Linked DNA regions of Homo sapiens: region 1 is linked to region 2. The links come from fine-mapping of genetic effects on gene expression. A gene starts in region 2. The other region holds a variant in brackets. All regions are shown on one strand. Distances are from middle to middle.

Evidence for each region. PIP is the estimated chance that this variant, and not a neighbour inherited with it, causes the effect.
Region 1: its variant is fine-mapped to the expression of TENM1 in whole blood (TOPMed, PIP above 0.99).

The regions. Positions count from the first base shown.
Region 1 is chrX:125,283,211-125,291,545 of GRCh38, forward strand. No RefSeq gene overlaps it. Among named protein-coding and RNA genes, the nearest start is that of TEX13C, 32 kb to the right of the region's middle. The variant C/A (reference allele first, on the strand shown) is at 4,885.
Region 2 is chrX:125,199,691-125,208,025 of GRCh38, forward strand. TENM1 (teneurin transmembrane protein 1) reads right to left here and starts at 4,622. Exons shown (of 35, transcript NM_001163278.2): 1 at 4,114-4,622. LOC124905211 (a long non-coding RNA gene) reads left to right here and starts at 4,770. Exons shown (of 2, transcript XR_007068314.1): 1 at 4,770-5,009; 2 at 5,352-8,335.

The DNA.
Region 1 (8,335 bases), 84 kb after region 2:
CCCTCAAAGTCTTAATTATTTCAGCATTAACTCAAAAGTCCACAGTCCAAAGTCTCATCCAAGATAAGTCAAGTCCTCTGAAATCTAAGCAGAGGTTCCCAAACCTCAATTCTTGACTTCTGTGCACCCGCAGGCCCAACCGCTTATGTAAGTCACCAAGGCTTGGGCCTTGCATGCTCTGAAGCAATGGCTTGAGCTGCATTTTAGCCCCCTTTAGCCAAAGCTGGGATGCAGGACACCAAGTGTTGAGACTGCACAAAGTAGCAAGGCTCTGGAACGGGCCTATGAAATCATTTTTTCATCCTAGGCCTCAGGACCTGTGATGGGAGGGGCTGCCATGAAGACCTCTGACATGCCCTGGAGACATTTTCCCCATTATCTTAGAGATTAACATTTGGCTCTCATTACTTACGCAGATATCTGAAGCTGGCTTGAATTTCTCCTCAGTAAATGGGTTTTACTTTTCTATCACATCATCAGGCTGCAAATTTTCCAAATTTTTATGCTCTGCTTCCCTTTAAAACATTAAGTTCCAATTCCAAACAATGTCTTTGTGAATGCATAAAACTAAATACTTTTAAGAGCACCCAAGCCATGTCTTGAATGCTTTGCTGCTTACAAATTTCTTCCGCCAGATACCCTAAATCATCTCTCTCAAGTTCAAAGTTCCACAGATCTATAGGGCAGGGACAAAATGCCATCAGTTTCTTTGCTAAAGCACAGCAAGAGTCACCTTTATTCCAGTTCCCAACAAGTTCCTCCTCTCCATCAGAGACGACCTTAGCCTGGACTTCATTGTCAATATCACTATAAGCATTTTGGTCAAAGCCATTCAACAAGTGTCTAGGAAGTTCCAAACTTTCCCACATCTTCCTGTCTTCTTCCGGACCTTCCAAACTGTTCCAACCTCTGCCTGTTATCCAGTTCCAAATTCGCTTCTACATTTTAAGGTATTTTTACAGCACGTAAAATTGGTACCACCTCCAGTACCAATTTACTGTATTAGTCTGTTGTCACACTGCTATGAAGAAATACGTGAGACTCAACAATTTATAAAGAAGAGAGGTTTAATTGACTCACAGTTTGGCGTTGCTGCGGAGGCTTCAGGAAACTTACAATCATGGCAAAAGGCAAAGGAGAAGCAGGCACCTTCTACACAGGGCAGCAAGACAGAGTGAGTGCAGTTATAAAACCATCAGATCTTTTGAGAACTCATTATTATGAGAACAGCACGGGGAAAACCACATCCATGATCCAATTACCTCCACTCGATCCTGCCCTTGACATGTGGGGATTATGGGGATTACAATCCAAGGTGAGACTTGGGTGGGGCCACAGAACCAAACCATATCACATACTTTCTAAAAAGAAGTCAGGTATAATTCTTGTATTTGCTTCTCTGTAAAGTGTTTTTCCCTCTGACTCCTTTCAAGATTTTTTTCATTATCTTCTGTACTTTTGAAATTTGATATTATCTGCCTTGGTATAGTGATTTTTGGTAATTTATCCTGCTTTCTGTTCTCTGAGCTTCCAGCATCTATGGTTTGATGTCTGACATTAATTTGGGAGAAATTCTCAGTCATTGCTTCAGATATTTCTTCTGTTCCTTTCTCTTTTTCTGATATTCCCATTATGTGTATGCTCTCTCTTTTGTAGTTTCCCATAGTTTGTTAGGGTCTGGTAAAACTCAAGCAGGCTAGCCTCTGGTTAAATAATTTCTCCTGAGGGCAGGCTTTATTAAGAAGAATCTAATGTATTTCCCTCTACCTGCTGGATGCAGGAAGGGGTTTTCCTTTGATAAACACTGTGAAGATCTAGTAGAGCCCGTGGAGGTGAAACTAACCAAAGTGTGAGTGTCCCTTATGACTGGATTCTGATGAAGATTTTATTTCTTAGGCTTGTTTACCTGAGCCTCCAGCAATGTTTTCGATTATTGTTTGGAGTTTTCTACCCTGCAGAAGTTTCTGCTGCTGGGTTTCTTCTCAGTAAGTTGTGATTCTTGGTATCTACTTGTTGGTGTCTCCAATTTTTGAGGTAACAGTTCTTTGACAGATTTAAGAAGAGTTATTAATTTCTCAGTGTATTTAACTTTAACTTTTTTTTTTTTAATTTGAAACTGAGTCTCGCTGCCACCCAGGCTGGAGTGCAGTGCCGCGATCTTGGCTCACTGAAACCTCTGCCTACTCAGTTCAAGCAATTCCCCTGCCTCAGCCTCCTGAGTAACTGAGACTACAGGTGCCTGCCACCATGCCCAGCTAATTTTTGTACTTTCAGTAGAGATGGGGTTTCACCATGTCGGCCAGGCTGGTCTCGAACTCCTGACCTCAAGTAATCTGCCCGCCTTGGCCTCTCAAACTGCTGGGATTACAGGCCTGAGCCCCTGCGCACAGCCTGTTTAACTTTTTACTTGTTAAAATGGAGTGAAGACTTCCAAGTTCCTTACATGTCAGACAGGAAAGTGGAAGTCTGGAGACATATCATTTTCATATCTGACATTTGCTTCTAATAGACAAAGCAGAATATTTCCATCAAATTTATCGGAGACAAAATAGGTGCTTATTGTTGCAAATTATACTGCCATTATTGCAAGTGTGGGTTAGTTATTCAGGGGGTTGCTAGTTATTAAGTGGGCTATTTTAAAAGTACATTTGGCCTACTCTTGCTCTCAACCTTTCTTGCCCTTCCACCTTCTGTGATAGGATGATTCAGCAAGAAGGTCTTCACTAAATTCTGGCACCATGTTCTCATACTTCCCAGCCTCCAGAATCATGAATGAGCTTTTATTGCTTGTATCAGTCTGTGGTATTCTCTTATAGCAGCACAAAATGAACCAAGACAAAAACTGGTATTGAGAAGTAAGGCTTTTGTTAGAATAAATACCTGTAAATGTGGAAGCAGCTTTGGAACTGGGTCATGAACAGAGGCTGGAAGAATTTGGTGGAACAGGCTAGAAAACGCATAGGTTGCTGTGAATGGAGTGCTAAGGGCAATTCTGGTGAGAGCTCAGAAGAGGGAGCACTGTAGGAAAGAGTGCAATCTCTTAGAGATTACTTAAGTCATTGTTATCAGAATACTGGTAGAAATATGAACAGTAATGATAATTCTGATGAGGTATCAGGTGGAAATGGGGAACGAGGTATTGGAAACTGGAGGAAAGGCCATCCTTCTTACCAGGGCTTGCCCAAGGGCTTTATAAAAGGTGGAATTTAAGAGTAATGGACTAGAATATCTGGCAGAATAAATTTTTAAGCAAAATATTTAAAAAGATATGTGGCCATTTTAACCACATATAGGAAGCTATGAATAGAGAAATATTACTTAAAGATGAAATTTATAATGAAAAGAGAATTAAAATGAAAAGATTTAGAAAATTATCAGCCTGGCCATATAAGAAGTGAAAAGGCACATTTAGAAGAACAAACCAAGGGTGTGGCCAAGCAACACTTTGCTAAAGAGACTACTAAAGATAGAAGAGAGCCAAGTGCTATTTATCAAGACAATGATAGAACGACCCTGAAGGCATTTCAGAGATCTTTGAGTAGGCTGCTCCTCCCATTATAGTTTCAGAACAGGGCTGTGAGTCAGGGCAACGTATCCAGAAAGGGGCCCATGGGACTTCAGCATGCGCTGCTTATGGCCACCTCATGATTCTGCTCCCCACATTCTGGCACACTGCTCCTTGGTCACCTCACCTGTGGCTCAGGCAGGCCCAGGTGAACCTCATGTTGTTGCTCTGGAGGGTGAAAGTGATGTTGATGGCGGTGGCAGCCTATCTGGAGTGGCCACTGCCATGATGCTGGCTACAGTGGGGGAGGCACAACTTGGACTGCACACTCCATGGAGCTGGCGGGAGCTAGGAACAGGGAGAAGCCCAGCCCCCTTCCAAGTTGGAGAAGAAGGAGCTTCACCATCCCTGGTGCAGCTGCAGCCACACAGCAGCAGCAGCTGTGCACCCAGGCATCTCTGCACTCTTGGGGGCCCATGAAGCCCCCCTGCCCCTGCAGGCTCAGAAGTGCCTGCTCCTGCTGCATGGCCTCTCTTCACTCATGGAACCCACTTTGATTTCAGAGCAAAGTTGTGGCTGAGCCTGGGTGCTGTCACCACCCAGCTGAGTGTGTGCACACTTGGGGCAGTGCTGACATACCAGCCCCTTGCTGCCTTGGCCCCCTCTGGACTTTAGGTGCCAATGAGCACAGTTGGGAGGATGGTGGGGGTGGTAAGGGTGTCTCTGGGCAGGACTTCGGGCATCCCTTGGCACAAACAGCCTGGGCGCTGTGCACACCATGGACAGCAGGTTAATGGTGGCAGGAGGCAGGCTCCTAGGCAGAAAGGGGTCCCTGGTGAAACTCCACCTTCAGGCCTGGGACGGCCTAATGCCTGAGGGCCAGGCTGCCAGTTCTGAGGACTGGAGTGAGAACTTATGGTGCTTTTTCTGGCCAGCCCATGGCCACTCATGGACCAATCAGCACATACTTCTTCCTCTTTGAAGTCCATAAAAACCCTGGACTCAGGCGGACTCAGGCAGATGACAGGACCACCTGCCTGTGGAGAGGAGCTACCCAATGTGAGTCTCCTCTCTGCTGGGAGCTGAGCAGTTGATGAGACAACCTGCCTGTGGAGAGGAGCTACCTGCTGTGGGTTTCCTCTCTGCTGAGAGCTGAACAAACATCTCGATGACCTGCCTATGCAGAGGAGCTACCGACTGTGGTTCTCCTCTCTGCTGAGAGCTGAACAAACGCCTGGATGACCTGCCTGTGCAGAGGAGCTACCGACTGTGGTTCCCCTCTCTGCTGAGAGCTGAACACTCTTCAGGATGACCTGCCTGGGGAGAGGAGGTACCTATTGCAGGTCAGCTCTGAGCTGTTTTGTCACTCAATAAAGCAC[C/A]TCTTCACCTTGCTCACCCTCCACTTGTCTGCATATCTCATTTTTCCTGGATGCAGGACAAGAACTCGGGACCTGCTGAATAGCAGAGCTGAAGCAGCCGTAACACAAACAGGGCTGAAATGCACCCCTTGCTCACCACGTTGAGGGTGACAAGAAGGAGAGAAGACAGAAGGAGAGAAGAGCTGCGGCCCTTCAGGAAGCCCAGACCTAGGAGCTTCCTGAGCTAGGGCTGTGATACCCTCTTTGGGGATCTGTGGTTCCTGGCATCTCCAAGCTTCTGGGTGCCACTGTGTTCCTTGGTGCCAGCTATGGAAGCTACTTGCGGTACACCTGATCCAGCTGTAGCCTTGCAGGGAGCTGGTGCCTGTGCCAGCCCCTGAAGCTTCCCACCCCACTGCAACTGGCGTGCCTTGCTGTGTGAAGTGGCTGGACCCTACGCTCACTCACTCACACACTCCTTGATGCTTTGCTCACCCTTGGCAGGTGAGGGATCCAGGCCGGTATCATGAACCGAGAGTAACCTGGCAGGCTGAGTGGGAGGAATGAGCCCCACATGCCAGAGCAAAACTCAGGCAAAGGCACCACTGGCCACAGAGGTTTCCAGCTGGAAAAGCAACACCCCAAGGATCCCATAACAGTGTGAGCCTTGGCAGTGGTCATGTGGTGCTGACTCTGCAGACACAGAATACATGAGCTATGAGGCCATGGTGACCTTCACCTAGATTTCAAAAGATGTATTGGGCAGCATGCGGGTTCAGGAAGAAACTTGTCACAGGGGCAGAGCCACTATAGAGAGCCCCCACTAAGGCAGTGCCTAGTAGAGCTCTGAAAATGAGGCCACTACAGAGAGTCCCTATTAGAGTAATGCCTAGTAGAGCTGTTGGAGTAAGTCCGCCATCAATACCCCAGAGCTATAGAGTTACCGGAGTGCAATACCAGCCTGAGAGCTGCAGGCATGTAACTCCAACCCAAGGGATCTGAAGCATGGACTGAGCCCAGTAAAGCTGTTGGGGCAGGGCTGCCAGAAGCCTTGGGGGCCCGATCTCCACCCCAGTGTGCCCAGGGTGCTGAACATGGAGTAAAATGAAGTTATTCTCCTGCTTTAAGACCTAACGTTGTTTTCTCTATTGAGTTTTGGACTTACCTGGGACTGGTTACCCTTTTCTTCCTGCTTATTTCTCCCTTTTGGAATGGGAATGTCTAGCCTATGACAGTCCCACCATTGTGTATTAGAAGCAGATGATTTGTTTTGATTTCATAGGGTCACAGCTGGAGAGAAATGTGCCTCAGTGTGAATCATACCTTGTGTTCATGCATATTTGATTTAGATGAGACTCTGGACTTTGGACTTTTGAGTTGATGCTGGAATGAGTAAAGGCTCTGGGGCTATTGGGGTGGAGCTAATGCGTTTTCATATGAGAAAGATATGCACTTTAGGGGCCAGAGGTAAAATGCTATGGTCTGACTGTGTCTCCCAATGTTGATGTGTTGGAAACTCAATCCCCAGTGCAGTAGTTTTAGGAGGTAGGACATTCAAGAGGTAATTAGGTCATGAGGGAGTGGGTTTGTTATTGTGAGTGGGCAGTTATGAAAATGAGGTTGGCCCTCTCTTACTCTTTCACTCTTACCCTCCCACCTTCTGCCATGAGATGATGAAGGATGAAGGCCTTCACCAGATGTCAGTGTCATACTCTTGGACTTCCTAGTCTCCGGAACCATGAGCCAAATAAACTTCTTTCCATTATCTTTTTTTAAAGACAGCCTCACTGTTGCCCAGGCTGGAGTGCAGTGGCATGATCATAGCTCACTGCAGCTTTGAATTCCTGGGCTCAAACAATCCTTCCATCTCATCCTCCTGAGTAACTGAGACTATGGGCACACACCACCGTGCCTGGATAATTTATTTTATTTGTTATTTTTTTGTAGAGATGGGGTCTTGCTTTGCTTCTCAGGCTGGTCTCTCAAACTCCTGGTTTTAAGTGATCCCCTTGCCTTGGCCTTCTAAAGTGCTGGAATTTACAGGCATGAGTCACCATGCCTGGTATAAACTTATAATGTTTATAAATTACTCAGGATGTGGAATTATGTTATAGCAGTACAAAACGGAGCAAGACAAAACCAAAATGAGGGTCGATGCCTGTCATATTTCTCAAAGTCTATGCCATGCTCCTCAAAGCATTCATACAATAATTAAATGCTGGTAACATTTGTCTCTGTAGACAAATATTTTTGGTTTCTATTATTAGACAATAAGAACTATAAAATCCCATAATGTTTTCAATTTATGTTTGAGTCCAAGAAGATGAGCACTAAATTTAGGGCTCAATTGCAACTAAATCAACCTGAAACTCTTAGCAAAATTCAATTTTTACTAACAAATGGCATTTAATTTACATAGGCTTAGCTTTAATATTTAAATCAATTTATATAATTTTAATGAATGGTGATACTATCAATTAATAAAAATGAATTTAAAATAAGCAAAAATATACATCTTTTAATAATTTCAGATTTTTTTTTTTTTTTAACTTTAAGTACTGGGATACATGTGCGGAATGTGCCGGTTTGTTACATAGGTATACATATGCATGGTGATTTGCTGCACCCTATCAACCCATCATCTAGGTTTTAAGTAAAAATCATATGCAGATAAGAATGCAGAAAATATAATTAGAATTTGGAAGAATTATAAATGAAAATATAAATGTTTATTTTCAAGTGCTTTTGCTCATATTTAAAAATTCAGTATTTGGAATTTAAAGGTCTCTGCTTATTTTAGAGTTATTCCAAAATAACTGGGAATGTCATGGTTCTAGTAATTTTTTTTTAACTAGCAAGACAAATATGTCTAAAGAAGGATTAAGCTTGTTTGTTGATGTGGAATTGTCAGTAATGTGTTTAGGGTGGAAATGTATTTCAATTTTTTGGTGCCTTTCCTTGAAAACTATAGAGTCTTCAGAGGCGTTTTCCCTAAGGGTCATACCATGTAGCTATCTTAAAGGGAAAAGAACTTTATAAGTAAGTACTTCTGATGCCTAAGGAATTAGTACCCTCATACTAGTACCTTTTTATATGGTTTAATTTTCCATCTCACAGTAACCAGTTTTATGTCATATGGGGAACAAATGCAGGGTCATTCTTTCTTTTTAGATTTGAGACAATTATCTGTACTATTTAAGTAAAAAGTAAACTGTGTGCTCCAGAGTGGCTGTCAATATTGACTAAATTGACAGAGCAATTACTCAACTTTCTATTTCATTTGCCTTTGTACACATAGCCACAAATCAACTGGCTCAGTTAACTTACTCTGAGGAATTAATTTCCTTTGAAAACCTAACTTTTTAGCATGGTACAATTTAATAATAAAGTAGAAATATTTACAGTGGGCAAACTTTGAAAATAAGTATAAAATTAAATTTGGTACTCAGATACTTGATATAAATTATGGTTA
Region 2 (8,335 bases):
ATAAAAATCTAATAGACTTCATTTATTAGACTCTAAGTTACTATTTTAAAATATTAGGGATCCATGTCACCTGTAAAAATATTTACTTTTCAAATTTAAATTAGCTTAATTTCTATACAGAAATGTTAGCATTGCAATTGATATAAATATTGTTATATAATAATTTTCAGTCTATGCCATCATATTCCAATTTCCTCAGCCCTATTTTTCATGGGTTCCAAATGTAAGCAATTTTGCTGGTCTTGCTAAATTGTACCACAGCACGTCTAGCAAACTACAAAATCTCTATACATTATATAAATTGCCATAACAGAGCACCGAATACTGAACAGACACCTATGGTTGGTCATCAAGGTTGTTAAGAATAATTAAAAGCTGTGTGAAGCCTTTTATAGCATTCACCTGCTCAAACTAAGCATGGTTCTAGCTGGTTATATTTGATATTTACTTTCCTCTGTTCTAAAAAAAATCAATGGAAAACAGAAAGGAATAAAAATAATATATTAAGCCAGGATTCAGAATATTTTTACCTTTTAGGGGAAGGAAAAATAATAGCAATCTCCATTCAAAGTAGTGATTTAATCTAACACTCAGAAGCTGTAGAAGATTTAAAGAAATTGTGGTATATGTGAGCATTTCTGAAATTTGATTCCTTTTAATTTTTATAATCAGCAGTTACACTTCCAGTCGTGGGTATATGCTGTTGGTCACAATTGCTAAATTCTGTACCTTACAATATTTTTCATCTGCCTGTAGTCATACTAGGAATCCAGTTTAAACCTTTCTTCTAAATGTTAAGTGATGGGAAGCTTTTTAAGTACGCATGGATTATTAATTTTGTGGTTAAAATCCACAGCAATTTAACAAATATATATAATTTTAATAAAGCTATTGTACATGTTTTATATCTGATTCAAGGCATTCACAAGCAATTGCTTCCGTGTGTGTGTGTGTGTGTGTGTGTGAGAGAGAGAGAGAGAGAGAGAGAACAAATATGAGTACTATAAGAAAATTTGTTTTCATCAAAAAAATTAATCACTGACTCAGTTATTCAAAGTACTGGTCTTCTTTTGACCTCTGGTCATTTATAAGTAAGTAAATAAATAAATGCATAAATAATAATAATTAACTTGTTTTGGGAAACTTTAGGGAATTTATTAACCATAATCTATACCAACTACTTGATAGCTTTACTTAAATCTGAAACTGAATGACTTAGGAAAAGCAAGCTTCAAGCAAAAATTATATGGACTCCAAATGTCTATCTCTAACATAGAATATGAAAAATGTTTGTTTTATTAATTAACACTAAAATTTCTTACTACTTCCAAGTTTTTAAGGCTGTCACAGAAAATAAATTTCCACTAAGTTTTCTGTTTTCAGAAACAACATATCAGGAATGTTTTGCAGTTTGACAATTTAAAGTAATATTGTATAGAATAAACTTGAATGCTAGACTGTTCTGCTTCAGCAAGAATCTTTCTGGTAAAGGTATCAGAAAGGATCAATGACTATGAGGGAAACTATGATTATGTCGGTGTTATTTACACATATAATAGCTGAATTGAAACACTGAGAATTCTAGGGTATTCAGACTGAATTAGGCCTTTGAATGTGATGATAGTTATGTATAATACAATTTTATTTTAATACACCTAAACGTTTGAATATTTGAAATCTTAATCACCTTTACAGCACAATGATTCTACAAAGCATTCTTTCCTTTAGCCTCACTGTATATTTTGTCAAATGACATGACTGTCCCTAATTCATAATTGGAACCTAAACCTAATGGAAAATACTACTTCATGTATGCAAAAATATTTGTGGGGTTTTTTTCTGCTATGTATAGCTGACATTGTTCTCAGGACTGGACTCTACTAGTTTTATTATGAAAATGTTAACATTTCTTCATAGAGTTGTTTTATAGAAACACCTGTTTTTCAGAAACATTCTGGGGAACAACCTGAAAACTTTTAAATAATATTTAGAGCATGGATTTATTTTAGGAATTACCTGATCCCTTTTTAAATGCATATTTCGACTTTCTTTAATCATGAAAAGTTTTCAACATTATTTTGTCATACCTGAAAGCTTTTAATTACTCTTAAAAACCCCAACTTTGCCATAGTAAATTATTTAATGCATCACAAAATAGTGTTATGAACTTGAACTAAAATGGCAAAATTGGGATTCTGTTTCTCCAGTTATGTACTTTGAGGGTCTTACTATGCCTTATGAAAATTCATTTTTCCCCACGTTGCAGATATGAAGAGCAAGGAGCGGGGGTGAGCAAGCAAGCAGATGCTGGGTAATCATGGAGCAGAAGTTAAAGGTGTGGATCGCCTTTTCATTAATTTTGTTTTTTAAGCCTTTCCCTCTTAGACTCTTCCCTTTCTTGGTAACACTGGAGTATCTACTGCTCCAGATCAGAAGACTTCGGACTAGGAAGATGAACTGGGCTATTTCAGCCAAAAAATATAATAGAGCAGACATTTGCCATGTTCTCCTCAAACACGTTAAGAGTAGCAATTGATTCTCACAGTACATTGTTACCTGGCTTGTTAATTATAATCATAGAACAAGAGTCTAAAATTCAAGGAAGCTGTCTGCGACACTTACTCGTCACAAACGCGATCAATTAAACGCTAATCTAACAGTACCTATTAGAGTGCACTGGGATGTTTCGTTTCCTTTTGGTCTTTAAAACCAAATGGCTACTAATTTCCTTTCTGTAGCACTGAGAACTTCTCTTTGTATTTCTTTGGGCCACCTCAAAAACACCTCCAGGTTGGTATCCCAGGAAAACAACGGTTAAGTTCAGGACGTTTACTGACCAATTGCTTCATATTGGAGATGTAGAGCTTTTCTACCCCTATTAGCATATCGCCAGTAGCAGTGATGCAGATCTGCTCAACCCGAAGCTGCCGACGGCGAGTACGAGCTGCAAACCAGCCCCCGCCCCCGCCCCTACTCTCCCAGTGGCGACACAGACGTGGAAACATCTACTAGTGGAGTGAGATCCTCTGTCTCCGCAATTGTAAACAACTGACTGCATCGGGTTCACTGAAATGTTTAAATACACTCCTGACTGCAAACACATCCACTCACCAAGTAGCGCTAACAATCTCCCCTTCTCCGCCTCTAGGCAAAGCATCCTGAAACTAAATTGGCAATCCTCCTGTTATGGAGTGGAAGAAAGTGAGGTTACATTTCCCCAAGCCTGCCTAGCGGGTGCTTGGCGCTCGCAGATATGCTGGCCGTTGCTGAATCTCGGGGACCAAGTCTCTGGATGAAATGCGGAAACACACAAACCCGCACATTGGAGCGCATGGTTAAAGTCAACACCGACGGCTCCTGGAGCACCGCCTGGGTTGTAATGACTATCTCTTTTGACAAAGATTGACAAAGGTATAGGGAGGACGCATCGGGTGGGGCCCTCGACGGCGGCGTAGGTTAGGAGGTCCTGCAGTTCCCCCGGGAACCCGGGCTCCCTGAGTGAGGCTCAAATAGAAATTCAGAAGCAAACAGGTACTAAAGTGCGTCCTAGCCCTTGGGCATATTCTCTGCGGAGACAGCAGGACCTGGACCCCAGTGGCAGAGCCCCAGGCGAACGCTCCAGGGTGGGAGGGATGCCAGAGAAGCGCCCCTTTCTTTCTTTTTAGACCGAGCCTCCCATCCTCACCCCAAGCACCCAGGTCCACTTGTTAGAGTGACTGGGCTCTGCGCGAGAGCCGAGGCGAGGAGGCTCCCTCTCAGAACTGAAGGAGTTGGTTGGTAAAAGTGCCGCCTGGGAAGCCCAGCGAGCCCTCGAAGGGCAGCGTCCCCAGGGCCCGCTGGAAGCTTGAACTGCGAACAAGGCCGACCTCCCTTCTGCCCCAGATGGTCCAGAGCCCCATGGCCGGCGGAGACCGGGAGAAGAAGGATGCGGAGGCTCTGCCACCTCGGGCAGGAGTCCCAGAGCGGACTCAACCGGCCGCTAACAGCCAGGAGCCGCCATCCGCCGCCTGCAGCCTCGGGGCGAAGTTCGCCTGTAGTCCTTGGGGTAGAAGGTTGGGGGTGGCGGGCGGGAGCGAGAAGGAATGGGGTGGGAGCCAGGAGAAACGCACCTACCTATTCCAAGCGCAAGTTTCGGCGGCGTCCCCAGGTGCTGTTCCCCCGCCCCCTCGCCAGGTGCTCGGCTCCGCCGGGCGCTGCCAGTGCCCGGGACTTAGGGCGTCTCGGCCGACTCCTGCGGGAAACGACTGTAAATCCACATTACTGTTCGAGCTGCCGCTCGGGCCCCCGCATTGCTCTCCTCCGGCTGCTGGCAGCGGTGCTCTAAACCGGCGGCCGCCGGAGGCAGGAACCGAACCTAGCTACTATTGCACCAGCGGACGACCGCTGCCAGAAGGGTGCTTGCGCCCAGGGTCCTATGTGTGTGCGAGAGAGTGTGAATACGTGTGTGTGTGTGAGTGAAAGAGAGTGTTCGTGTGTGAGAGAGCAGAAGGGGTGAGCTCAGCCCCCGGGGCACTCGGAGGTGAACTCCGGGCTGAGCCGAAGCTCGCCGCGCTCCCGGGTGCTGGGCGTCTGCTCGGCTGATGGCTGGGCTGATGTTGCCGTGGCCGCCGCCGCCGCGCTCTAAGGCTGGTCGCGGTGGTGCAAAAAATGTTTCTCCGCTACTCGAGACCAAAAAACCTGCCCTGTCTACTGAGCATGCCCGGTTTGACAGCTTCACAGCCGAGGTTTTTTTTTTTTTCTCCTTTTCCCCAAGACTCCAGGTTTTAGCCGCAGCTGAGATGGGAGGTGGAGGGAGGTGGGGGGAGGAGGAGAGGGAGAGGAGGAGGAGGAGAAAGAGGAGAAGGGCTTAAGGAGCAAGTATCGGGCAGAGGAAGGGAAGTCGCAATGAGAAAGATCAGGGTGTTATAGGGTGGAGAGGGGAAGGAGAAAGCTGGATATGGAAGCAGAGGAAGGAAATATGGATCAACAAAATTTAGATTTCCTACTACAGTGGATAGATGCCTGGCCAGGTGACTCACTCGATGTTTTTTTTTTTTTTTTTTTTTTAATTACTTTCTCCTGAGGGTGAGGGGTGGGGTGGGGGGTTCGGATGAGTATTTGTCAACCCCAGGATCAGCCTGGGACAGTGTTACCTAGTCATGACATACACAAACATCGCGTGCACACACACGCGCGCGCACACGAGCGCACACACAGGAGCACAATCACTGCTTCTATGTTCAAAGCCTCAGGACTGACTTAGAATGCGAAGTCTTTTGCCAGTATAACTTTGGCAAAAAAAAAAAAAAAAGGGCGGGGGGAGAGAAATTGTTTGGTTTCCTTTTCTTATTCTCCTCTCCCCCGCCTTCCAGAAAAGCCAAAAGCCCGTGAATGCGGTGCATAAGCGACCCACAAGCTCTCGTGCGTCTGTCGGTGAGAGTGCACCGCCGACTGCGTCCTGCTGACAGTGTGACCCCAGAGCGCCAAGGCCGGCCGGCCACATGCAGCCTACTGGCGGCGCATCAGATCAGCAGTAACGACGTCCACCTGAAGGTGGTTGGGGGAAGAGGGGAGCGCTAAGGGATCCTGCCCTGCCTGGCCGCCCAGGTTCCTGGGCTCCCTAAACGGCTCCGCCCCTCACCCAGCCTGGCACCAGGGCACGTACTCGGGCGAACCCAGCGCGCTGCCCCAAGCCCTGGATCCCTCCCTCCCTCCCAACCCTCCTCAGCTTCCTCGAAAAAGCGGAGAAGCGGAATCTGCACGCCCAGAAACTCGCGTCAGAAGCCTTAGTAGTCCGACTGGGCATGCTCGGGACTTGGGGCGCTTCGCATGGAGGCACTCTCCAGCGGCTAACATCTGTCCGACTGGGCCAGATGTGAGTCTGAAGTAGGAGGCTTGGATGCACGCTAGAGCAGGCTCTGGTTCCGGGAGGGGTGGCGGCGACGCCCACAGCAGTCTTCTTTCCGGCTTCCCACAGAGAGCAAGACCGTGGGAGATACCAAGTGCCGAGCCAGGGGAGCTGCACAAACTGGAGAAATAGGAGTCTAGCGGATTCCCAGGCCTCCTGCCCCGCGGTGCCACCCCAGCCGTAGGCAGGTAGGGGGCGCGCAGAGCAGCTAGGGAGCACCGCGTGTGCTCCCAAGGGACTGCTGACCTCTAGGTAAAGAAAAGAGAGCGTGAAGAGTCGAACATTCTTTGGGCGAAGGACGTTTACTGATTTTTTTTTTTTTAAGTAAAGAAAGAAGGGCGTGTGTGAATGCGTATATGTGCACGCACGTTTTAAATTTTCCTCCGCAAGAACAGGGACAGGAGAGCGAGAAGCTATTGCCGAGTTGGGAACCCGCTAGAGGTTACAATAAGGCAGGCTTGGAGTCGTGGCTGGTGCTAGTTACCGGGAAGAGTTCCTCTTGGCGCGGTGGGCGAACACCAAAGCTTCCAACTGTTCCCTTCCCTGGGTGGCGGCAGCTGCCCAAGGTCGGCTTCCGGGCTGGTCTCTGTGCTCCTGAGCAGGGGGACCAGATTCAGTTTCAGAAAGAGAGGTAGTACAGAGTGACGCCAGGGGGAGTTCTCTGAACCGTGTGTTCCCATTTTCCCAGCTTTTGATATAGGTATTTGCAAAGAGGGAGCATTGTAAGACCATCACACCACCAAGGGGAGGAAATACAAAGAGCTGAACACTCTAGGGGGAAGAATCAGGGAATCAAGAGCACGTTTATTCCCATCGTCCCTTCCCAACAAGGTCTTCAGCTTCAGGCAGGAATCATTTGGATCCCTGCGGCTCAACACCCTCCCACTCCCGTCCCGCCCCACCGCCCTGCCAACAAAGAAACAAAAGATGACAACCAGGCTCTGTAGGGGCATAGCAACTGCTTCTATCACCGGCTCTCTGTTGGGCTGTTGAGAAAGCAGTAGTGAAAGGATGGGTATAAAACCTGTGTCTTGCCACAAATATGTAAACGAAACCTTCCTAAAACCCACTACCCTCCTACAAAACAAAAACAAGTTATTTGTATAAACATATATAGATTTAAGTATCCTAAATAAAGATTCCACATTATGAACTGCCCAAACCCTGAACTGTGGAAGGAAGACTTTCAGGATACCTCCTCAATCCTTACCAAAGAGTTCTGGAAGGAGAAAAAAAAGAAACATCTGGCCAGTCACTTCTCCAATGACTGGAAATACTCTGGGTGTTTCCGTAACCAGCGATTAAGAAAAGAACTCCCCATAACAAAAAGGGAATTCTGGCCAAATGGGACATGGACAAACCCTAATGACCAAGGAAATGGAATATGAATTTAAAAGCATGATTATCTCACTCTCATTCTTGCTGTTCCTTTGTTACTCTTCTTGAAGATACTGGCAGAAAGGGAGAGTTGATACTTAGGGATTTCATGAAAGGAGGCCGAGTTTGTTTCTCTCCTGGCAATTCAGCAGTCCCTGTAATCATTTTTTTTTAGAAATTCTCTACCACCTCCTCTTTATGCTGTATTTTCTCTAGCATTCTTCCCTCTCATTTCCTTACTGGTCTCCTGTGGCTCCCTGGTGTCCTTAATTCATTTGGTCTGCACCTGTCTCCCTTTAGTTCCTTCAAAACATTGTTTCCAGTCCTAATTCCGAAGTACAGAGGGCTCTGTCACTTTTCTCTGTTTCCTAAGAACTGATTTGCTGCTTCTAGACGCCTATATCCTGATATTGTAGGTGGATTTCCTAAGGCATTTATTCAACTTTAGAGATTCCCCAGACACATTTAAGCAACATGAAATTGCAGAATTTTCAAGTAGTTTTGCTCATGGGACCAAGAATTTCTATTTCAAATATGAATATCAGGAAGAAGACACACTAAATTGCTAGTTTCAGAATAGCCAATGTAAATATAACAGATTGTAATGGAGCATGCAATCTCTATATGACAGTTGTCCAGTTGCCAAGTGTATATTATTAAAATAATTTGCTAGGAATTTTAAGATATATACCTTTTTGTTAACAAAGACACACACACACACATGCACTCATACACCTTTTTATGTTTATTCCCAAAACTAATGTAATTACATAAATTCAATTCAGCAAGTGATTATGGAACATCTACTATATTCCAGGAACTGTGCCAGCATTGGGAATAGGCAAAGAAATTGAGACTTAAAGAAGCTAAGAAATGTTCAAAGATGTGTGAACAATTTGCTAATCAACAAGTATATACTGTGTGACTGTTACCGTGTATCTAGACTATTTCACTCCTAGAGAACAATATTTAGATGTTCTGGCCTTGATTTTTTAAATATATTTTTAATCTATAGGTTGCATTCTGTGAGAAGAATGCATAATGGAAAATATGACATGTCAGTTTTGTTTC